Linked DNA regions of Homo sapiens. The protein of the gene in region 2 interacts with the protein of the main gene of each other region in a pairwise test. Each region holds a gene or a part of one and is shown on either strand. Other genes may lie near its edges.

Evidence for each region.
Region 1: the proteins of NCK1 (region 2) and BICRA interact in binary tests that used the Homo sapiens proteins (3 or more experiments, as listed by UniProt).

What each region holds. Positions count from the first base shown.
Region 1 is NC_000019.10:47,677,646-47,682,133, forward strand, and holds part of BICRA (BRD4-interacting chromatin-remodeling complex-associated protein), read left to right. Parts: intron 1-1,675; coding exon 1,676-3,631; intron 3,632-4,330; coding exon 4,331-4,488. UniProt on the Homo sapiens protein: Component of SWI/SNF chromatin remodeling subcomplex GBAF that carries out key enzymatic activities, changing chromatin structure by altering DNA-histone contacts within a nucleosome in an ATP-dependent manner.
Region 2 is NC_000003.12:136,923,759-136,929,236, reverse strand, and holds part of NCK1 (SH2/SH3 adapter protein NCK1), read right to left. Parts: intron 1,254-5,478; 5' UTR 1,236-1,253; coding exon 1,010-1,235; intron 1-1,009. UniProt on the Homo sapiens protein: Adapter protein which associates with tyrosine-phosphorylated growth factor receptors, such as KDR and PDGFRB, or their cellular substrates. Maintains low levels of EIF2S1 phosphorylation by promoting its dephosphorylation by PP1.

The DNA of each region.
Region 1 (4,488 bases), on a different chromosome or scaffold from region 2:
GATCACACCATTGCACTCCAGCCTGGGCAACAAGAGTGGAAACTCCGTCTCAAAAAAAACCCAAAGAAACAAAAAGCATTGAACTCACAGTGCGGTTGGCACAGAAGTTCACAAATGGGAGCCACTGCTGATGTGAGCTTTACTCCACCAGAACTACGACTGCTTGTCAGAAACCTTTAGGGCCAGGTGTGTTTCAGAATTTCGAATTTCTCCAATTCTGGAAAAGTGGTGCCATATGTGTGGTGTGTGTCATGTCACACGCTTGCCTTTCGGCGGCCAAACTTGGGATGTCACATCATGTGGATAAATGGATCCCACCTAAAGTGCCATGTTGGTTCTGGTCAGGTTTTGCTGCCAACAGAGCTATGAAAACAGTCTCAGTTCTTAGAGCTTTTTGGGTTTTGTAATTACAGATAAGTGTTGTGGGCCTATATCACTATTTAAACAATAGTTGCTTATTTTTATTTATTTTTGTTTTGTTTTGTTTTGAGATGGAGTCTCACTCTGTCACCCAGGCTGGAGGGCATTGGTAGGATCTCAGCTCATTACAGCCTCCACCTCCCAGGTTCAAGCCATTCTCCTGCCTCAGCCTCCCGAGTAGCTGGGACTGCAGGCACGTGCCACCACGCCTGGCTAATTTTCGTATTTTTAGTAGAGATGGTGTTTCACCATGTTGGTCAGGCAGGTCTCAAACTCCTAGGCTCAAGTGATCCACCTGCCTCTGCCTCCCAAAGTGCTGGGATTACAGGTGTGAGCCACCGTGCCTAGACTTTATTTTTGTTTTTTGGGCGTCAGCTGGTAGAGATTGGGGGACAGCACCCCCGCGGGCTTGGGCTGGATGGGCATGGGCGTGCGATGCAGGATCACGTTGGGCGCCGGGACCAGTGGTGACAAGCTGAGGCCTGGGGCCACCACCAGCGGCTTTCCTGAGGGTGCCCCGCTGGGTCTTACTCTTGTCACTTAGGCTGGAGTACAGTGACACAATCATAGCTCACCGTAGCCTGGAACTCCTGGGCTTAAGAGATCCTCTCACCTCAGGCTCCCAAAGTGCTAAGATTACAGGCGTGAGTCACTGTGGCCTTGAACAGTAGTTTTTTTTATTACATTTTACTGATGGGTACAGATGAAGAAACTGAGGTCAGATCAAGCACGCCCTAGGTTACACAGCTAAGCCTTGGCAGAGCTGGGATTTGATCCCGGGTCCAGCCACTTGCAGGTGGAATGTTCTTTTTTCTTTTTTTTTTCTTTTTTTCTTCTTTTTTTTTTTTTCTTCTCAAAGTCTTGCCCTGTCACCGAGGCTGGAGTGTAGTGAAGTGCTCGTAGCTCCACTCTGCAGCCTCAAACTCCTGGGCTCCAGTGATCCTCTCACCTCAGCCTCCCAAGTAGCTAAGACCACAGGCACATGCTGCCACCCCTGACTAATTTTTCTTTTTTAAAATTTTTTTCTCACTGCGTTGCCCAGGCTGGTCTCAAACTCTTTGGCTCAAGCCATCCATCCTCCTACCTCAGCCTCCCAAAGTGCTGAGATTACAAGCGTGAACCACCATGCCAGGAGGGAATGTTCTTTCTTGAACGTGGCTGCCCTGTCACCTCAGCATTCTTTGCGGCAGCTGTGGCCTAAGCGTAGCCCCTTGCTAACCTCAGCTCTTTCCTTCCCACCTTTCCCGGCCTGCAGCTCCATGTGCAAGAAGCTTCCGGCAACCACCTGAACCCAGAGCCCAACCAGCCGGCCCCCAGTGTGGACCTAGACTTCCTGGAAGATGACATCCTGGGCTCTCCTGCGACAGGGGGCGGCGGCGGGGGCAGTGGGGGCGCTGACCAGCCCTGTGACATCCTCCAGCAGAGCCTCCAAGAGGCCAACATCACGGAGCAGACGCTGGAGGCCGAGGCTGAGCTGGACCTGGGTCCCTTCCAGCTGCCCACCCTGCAGCCTGCGGATGGCGGGGCAGGCCCGACGGGCGCTGGAGGGGCAGCGGCCGTGGCTGCGGGGCCCCAAGCCCTCTTCCCAGGCAGCACCGACCTGCTGGGGCTGCAGGGCCCGCCTACCGTGCTGACCCACCAGGCCCTGGTGCCGCCCCAGGACGTGGTCAACAAGGCCCTGAGTGTGCAGCCCTTCCTGCAGCCTGTGGGCCTGGGCAATGTGACACTGCAGCCCATCCCGGGCCTCCAAGGCCTGCCCAATGGCAGCCCTGGGGGTGCCACGGCGGCCACACTGGGCCTGGCGCCCATCCAGGTGGTGGGCCAGCCCGTCATGGCGCTCAACACGCCCACCTCCCAGCTCCTGGCCAAGCAGGTGCCCGTCAGCGGCTACCTGGCCTCGGCGGCTGGCCCCTCGGAGCCCGTGACGCTGGCGTCGGCCGGTGTCTCGCCACAGGGGGCTGGCCTGGTCATCCAGAAGAACCTCTCGGCCGCTGTGGCCACCACGCTCAATGGGAACTCTGTGTTCGGAGGCGCGGGGGCCGCCTCGGCTCCCACCGGGACGCCCTCGGGACAGCCGCTGGCGGTGGCCCCAGGCCTCGGCTCGTCGCCACTGGTCCCGGCGCCCAACGTGATCCTGCATCGCACACCCACGCCCATCCAGCCCAAGCCCGCGGGGGTGCTGCCGCCCAAGCTCTACCAGCTGACGCCCAAGCCGTTTGCGCCCGCGGGCGCCACGCTCACCATCCAGGGCGAGCCGGGGGCGCTCCCGCAGCAGCCCAAGGCCCCGCAGAACCTGACGTTCATGGCGGCGGGGAAGGCGGGCCAGAACGTGGTGCTGTCGGGCTTCCCCGCGCCTGCGCTGCAAGCGAACGTCTTCAAGCAGCCACCGGCCACCACCACCGGAGCGGCCCCGCCGCAGCCCCCCGGGGCCCTGAGCAAACCCATGAGCGTCCACCTCCTGAACCAAGGCAGCAGCATCGTCATCCCCGCCCAGCACATGCTGCCGGGCCAGAACCAGTTCCTACTGCCTGGCGCCCCGGCGGTCCAGCTCCCGCAGCAGCTCTCAGCCCTGCCGGCCAACGTGGGCGGGCAGATCCTGGCGGCCGCTGCCCCCCACACAGGTGGACAGCTCATCGCGAACCCCATCCTCACAAACCAGAACCTGGCGGGCCCACTGAGCCTGGGCCCCGTGTTGGCCCCCCACTCCGGGGCCCACAGCGCGCACATCCTCTCCGCCGCTCCCATCCAGGTGGGCCAGCCTGCGCTCTTCCAGATGCCCGTGTCGCTGGCGGCGGGCAGCCTGCCCACGCAGAGCCAGCCAGCGCCCGCCGGGCCGGCCGCCACCACTGTCCTCCAGGGGGTCACCCTGCCCCCCAGCGCCGTGGCCATGCTCAACACCCCCGACGGCCTGGTGCAGCCGGCCACCCCTGCCGCTGCCACCGGGGAGGCCGCGCCTGTCCTCACGGTGCAGCCTGCCCCCCAGGCGCCCCCCGCGGTCAGCACACCCCTGCCCCTGGGCCTCCAGCAGCCGCAGGCGCAGCAGCCCCCGCAGGCCCCCACCCCACAGGCCGCCGCCCCGCCTCAGGCCACCACCCCCCAGCCCAGCCCTGGCCTGGCGTCTAGCCCGGAGAAGATCGTCCTGGGGCAGCCGCCCTCTGCCACCCCCACGGCCATCCTCACTCAGGACTCCCTGCAGATGTTCCTGCCCCAGGTAAGCAGGGCGGGGCAAGGGAGCAGGTACCGGAGGAGGCGGGTTTGGGAGGAAGAGGGGTCCTGGGGCGAGGCGCCAAGATCCAAAAGTGGATGCCACTGTGGCAGCTGGGGGGGGAAGGTCTCAGTCATGGCACAGGTGGCCCCTAAGAGGAGGCCCGAAGGGTGAGGGCCCTGGCTGAACTGGCAGGAAGATGGATTGGCAGGTTGGCTGACTGATAGACAAGGGGCAGGACAACTGTTAGGCAGTGAGAGGGACTGGCAGACAGACAGACAAAGAGAGGGACCAGTGAACAGACAGAAGGGTAGGCACTGGCTGGGCTGCTGACAGATGGAGAGGAGAGGGACCGGCAGGGAGAGGGACTACCCGACGGACAGAGAAGGGCAGGCACTGGCTGGCCTGCTGACAGACAAGGAGAGGAATCTCAGAGAGAAAGTGGACGAGACAGGGACAGAGGGACAGGCAGGTGGGGCAGGAGAGAGGCAGGGCAACGTGGAGCTGGCAGAGGGGCCAATGGGAGCTCAGAATGGAGCAGGCTGCCTGGGTTTCGGCCTCTGTGCCTGGCACCCTGCCTGCCAGGCTGCCCACTACCCCATTCTCTGGAACCCTGGGAGCGTCAATAGGGGCAGGGGTCTCGGGTGGGGAGGTCGAGGGCCTGTGGGGGCGGCTTTCTGATCCTGTGCGGGCTGCCCGTTGCAGGAGAGGAGCCAGCAGCCCCTCTCCGCAGAGGGCCCCCACCTCTCCGTGCCTGCCTCGGTCATAGTCAGCGCCCCGCCTCCCGCCCAAGACCCAGCCCCAGCCACCCCCGTCGCCAAAGGAGCTGGCCTCGGCCCTCAGGCCCCCGACAGCCAGGCTTC
Region 2 (5,478 bases):
ACTAAGCTGGGTATGGTAGTAAGCATCTGTAGTCCCAGCTACTCAGGAAGCTGAGGTGGGAGGGTTGCTTGAGCCCAGGAGTTCAAGTTTGGCCTGGACAACAGAGCAAGACTCCATCTCTACAAAACCATAAAAAATAAATAAATAAAAACTAATGTAAAGTAGTGAGTCAACAGTATTTCATATTTGTCAGTCATGCTATATTGCTCCCAAACTGTCTGCACAAGGAGAAATTGTACTTTTCTTCTACACCTAGACAAAGAACAATTACGCAAATAGCATGTTTGCCTGAACACCAAAAATGAAATTCTGTCCCTCCCAATTCCTTCCTGTCAGCTAAGGAGAGTTTAATTTTTTTTTTTTTTTTTTTTTTTTAAAGAAGAGGCCATTCCTTGCCCATGCATATTTCCTTCCTATCAGCTTAGCCAAGTCCAGTGTGAAGTGGGCTCCACTGTCTCAGGCCCTAATGGAGGGCCAGTAAAAATAAAAAACAAAAACTTTGGAGAAATAAAGGGAAAAAGAGAAACAAAATAGAAAAGAGCTCTGTAGGTGCTAATGTACAGTAATGATCCACAGTTCTCTTATCAAATAGAAAAACAAAATGGAGGGTTTTAAGTGAAGTTCAAAACATAAGGTCATTAGATGTTAAAATTCATTATGTGCCATGTACATAAGTTGCCTTGGTGCCAAAGAGGCAATTCTGCCTATAAGTCTAAACTCCAACAGTGATTCATGGTTCAAAAAGCCCCTGCTAGAAGGTGAGAGTTAGTTCTACTCATTGGTATCACTCTGCCTTGACTTGGAGCATGGGCCTAGATTTACAGAAACTGCATGTTAACACTTATGACCTTCACTGGTCTTCTGGGTTGACCACCTGCTATGACTCAAACTTACCTAGCCCTTGCCTTTTCAAGTCAATTATGCACACTGCTGCCAGAATTATGTACAAAGAACTAAGTTGCAGGTTTCATTTAAAACAAAGTTGCTTTTCTTTTAAAAAATATCTTACCTAAGGTATCCTTTAGGTTTTTCACAATAGATGCTTTCCGAGCACTGTTTTTCCTTTCCACATAGTTAGAAGGCACAAAACCTGTTTTATTCATGGAATTTCGAACTCGCCACCAGGACTTAGAATCATCCAGAAGCCATAATCTCTCATTCTTCTTGATGTCCAACTCTTGTTCTTGTTGGGCCACATAATCAAATTTGGCTACTACCACCACTTCTTCTGCCATCTTTCAGCAGCTTCAGCACTGTAAACACATGGAAAATATTTTTATGTAAGGTTGAGGTAGTATTAGTTCACATGCTTTTCAAAAGAGACACACCTAAAAATCTAAAGACATAAAGATGAAAAGTAAAAAATATGGAAAAAAATACATGAGGCAAATAGTAATTTAAAGAGACTGTGACTGTATGGCCGTGCGCAGTGGCTCATGCCTGTAATCCCAGCACTTTGGGAGGCCAAGGCAGGCAGATCACTTGAGGTTGAGTTCGAGACCAGCTTGGCCAACATGGTGAAACCCCATCTGTACTAAAATACAAAAATTAGCTGGGCGTGATGGTGCACACCCGTAGTCCCAGCTACTCAGGAGGCTGAGGCATGGGAATAGCTTGAACCTGGGAGGCGAAGGTTGCAGTGAGCCGATATCGCACCACTGCACTCCAGCCTGGCGACAGAGGGAGAATCTGTCTCAATCAATCAATCAACCAATCAATAAAGAGACTGGTGTTGCTCTATTAGTATCAAACAAAACTTAAAGGGCAAAAACCATTACTAGCAATAAAGTTCACTACCCAATGAAAAATGTTCTACTCAATTACAATATCTAAACTTCTATGTACCTAGTAACAAGATAGTTTCAAAATATGTTGACAGAACCACAAGGAGATCTTGACAAACCCATTACCACAGAGGACAATTTTTAACATATTATCAGAGTAACAAAACAAAGAAATAAAAACGGCCAGGCCTGGTGGCACACACCTGTAATCCCAGCACTTCGGGAGGCCGAGGCTGGTGGATCACCTGAGGTCAGGAATGCAAGACCAGCCTGGCCAACATGGTGAAACCCCATCTCTACTAAAAATACAAAAATTAGCTAGGTATGGTGGCGCACACTTGGAATCCCAGCTACTCAGGAGGCTGAGGCAGGAGAATCCCTTGAACCTGGGAGGCGGAGGTTGCAGTTAGCCAAGATCGTGCCACTGCACTCCAGGCCTGGGTGACACAGCCAGACTTGGTCTCAAAAAAATAAATAAATAAATACAAACATTATTAAGGCTAGAGAAGAACTCATATCACAACCAGCAAGTCTGATTTAATAGACATATACAGAATATTGCTTCCAAATAGAAAACAAATGAAACACATACAAAAAGCAATCAAATGCCAGGCCATAAAGAATGTCTCAATGTTCACGTAACTGATATCCTACAACCATATTCTCCAACAACCATAACAAAAAGATAACTTTTGAAATACCACGTTTGGAAACTTCTAAAAACTAATGAATCTAAGAAGAAATCATATTGAATTTTGAAAATACTTAGAAGTAAATAATTTTAAAAACTATACATCGAACTCTGTGGGATGTAGCAAGAGGAGTGTATATAGACAGATTTTTAGTTTTAAATAGTAACATTAAAAAACAAAAAGAGTGGCCGGGCGCGGTGGCTCATGCCTGTAATCCCAGCACTTCAGGAGGCTGAGGCGGGTGAATCACAAGTTCAGGAGATCGAGACCATCCTGGCTAACACGGTAAAACCCTGTCTCTACTAAAAATACAAAAAAATTAGACAGGCGTGGTGGCGGGTGCCTGTAGTCCCAGCTACTTGGGACGCTGAGGCAGGAGAATGGCTTGAACCCGGGAGGCGGGGCTTGCAGTGAGCCGAGATCGCGCCACTGCACTCCAGCCTGGGCCGCAGAGCGAGACTCTGTATCAAAAAATAATAATAATAATAATAATAAAATTTAAAATAAAATTTTAAAAAGAGCTAAAAATAAATTAATGAACTGAGTATCTATCTTAAGCAGTTAGAAAAGTTAAAGAAACATTAGAAAAACAAATCCAACTAGAAAATGAGCAAAAAAACATGAAGAGGCATTCACTGAAGATTTACAGATGGCAAATAAGCAGATGAAAAGGTATTCATCATTAGCTATTAAAGAAATGCAAATTAAAACCACACTGAGATGTCACTACATACGCTTGTCAGAATGGCTAAGAGTGGTAATACCAAATGCTGACAAGGGTAAGTTGAAATTGGATCACACGTATACTGCTGATGAGAATGTAAAATGGTACAGATACTCCGCAAAATTGTCTGACAGTTTCTCATAAAACTAAACATGCAACTACCATACAAGCTAGCAACTGCACCCCTGGGTATTTATCCCAGAGAAATGAAAATTTATGTTCACATTTTACATGAATGTTAACAGCAACTTTATTTCTAACAGTCAAAAACCGGAAACCACCCAGATGTCCTTCAACAGGCAAATAATTAAACAAACTGGTACGTTCATACCAAAAAGAACAATTGATGCACAAAACGACCTGGATGAATCTCCAGGGAATTATAACTGCTCAGTGAAAAAAGCCAATCTCAAAGGTTAACTATATGACTCCATTTATATAACACTCTCAAAATGACAAAATATGGAAATTAGAAACAGATTAGTAGTTGCCAGGGTTAACGGGGCAGCAGGAACAGGAGGGAAGTAAGTATGACTATAAAAGGGCAATATGAAGAAATTTTGTAATATTATTGTGATATTGTACTATACTTCTGCCAGATGTATTGCCACTGGAGGAAAGCATACACTGGATCTCGCAATAAGTTCTAAAGTTTCTCAGAATTGCATGTGGATCTATAATGATCTCAAAATAAAAAGTTTAATTAAAATAAAAACTGAAAGAGAAAACACAAATAGTCAAAAAGTATTCAAAAGATCCTGAATATCTTTATAATTAAAGAAATGAAAACTAAACTGAAATACCACACTTTACCTATCAGGGTGACAAAAGTATTACCAATATTATCTAGTCCTCCCCAGAATGTACAAAAATAGCATTCTACTACATTACTGGTATAATAACTAAAAATTTATATAATGCTTTTAAGTTTTATAATTATGGCACTTTTCAACATTTACAGAAGAGAATAGTATAATGAATCCTATACCTATCACCCAATTTTATCAATATTATGCCTTGTGGTTCAGCTATCCCCCTAATTTTTGGTGGGGGAACTGGAATCCCATGATTTCATTAAGCACTAACAGATTAAAAACCCATACCCCTCAAAAATGAACAAATCAAGGGCTCCTGACCTTTTCCCTTTTTTAACCCATATATGCCGGAGGTTGCAATTTCTTGTGTGAAAAATCAGACCTTGGTGACGACCTTGAGCATGATATAAATAACTCTCACAAGCTTAGCGTTCCAATAATGGAACACTAGGCACAAATGGGTTAAGCCATGGACCTCCCCTCCTCCTGCCTAATGGCAGTGTGGTGAAACATAGAACCTCTACTCACAATGTTTCTGATGCATAAAAATATATAAGATTGCAAACAAGTCAATTATACTAAAATTAAATTATCAGTATATTTTCAAAAGCTCATTTTGAAAAGGTGTTCCTTTATTAAGAACTCCTGCAACACTTATTTCATCTAATGCTAATATTCAATTTTTGCTAAGTGTATTTTTTTAAACATTCTTACAGTTGGTGTGAACTGGGATCCAAACTAAGTCGATATATTGCACTTAAGCTAACATGTTTTAAGTCTCTGACACTGTTCTCTTTCCCCACTCTATGTCATTTATTTAAGAAGCTGGCTTCACTTGTCCTGTAGCATTTCCCACATCGTGAATTTGGCTAGTGTATATTTTCATGGTGTTCCTCTATCCCCCCTATCTCCTATAAACTGGTAATTATTTCTAGAGGCTTTACTTTTTCTAGGTTGTTTTGTCATTGTTGCAAGAATAATTCGTTAAGTATTCTTGTGTACTTGTTATTGCCATTTATTAGGAGGCACATTATGTCTGCCTGAACCATTTTCTGTGATGTTAAGACTGAATGGTAGATTTGTAGCACTGAACTGATTTATCCATTATTATAAAGTTCCCCCATCAAACCTCTACCCAATGGTTTTACCTGCCACTGATGATCACTGCCTAGATCAACTATTTCAATAATGATGATGTGCTAGCTCTACCTGCTTTCAGAAACTGTGATTATTCTCAAAGGAAAATTTTGCTTATTGTTCTATTACCCTAAAACATAAAACCTTACAGAAAAGGTAGAATATATACTTCTGTGTGGTTATGACACCAACTGGACGTAGAGTTAGGCTCACTTGTTTTCATTTTTTGAAGATCACTTTATTTTCCCTTTTTAAAATGTAATTGTTTCATAATTATGTAAAACATTTGGATGGTTCTAAAAGCTAAACTATCAAGCAAGGTAGAT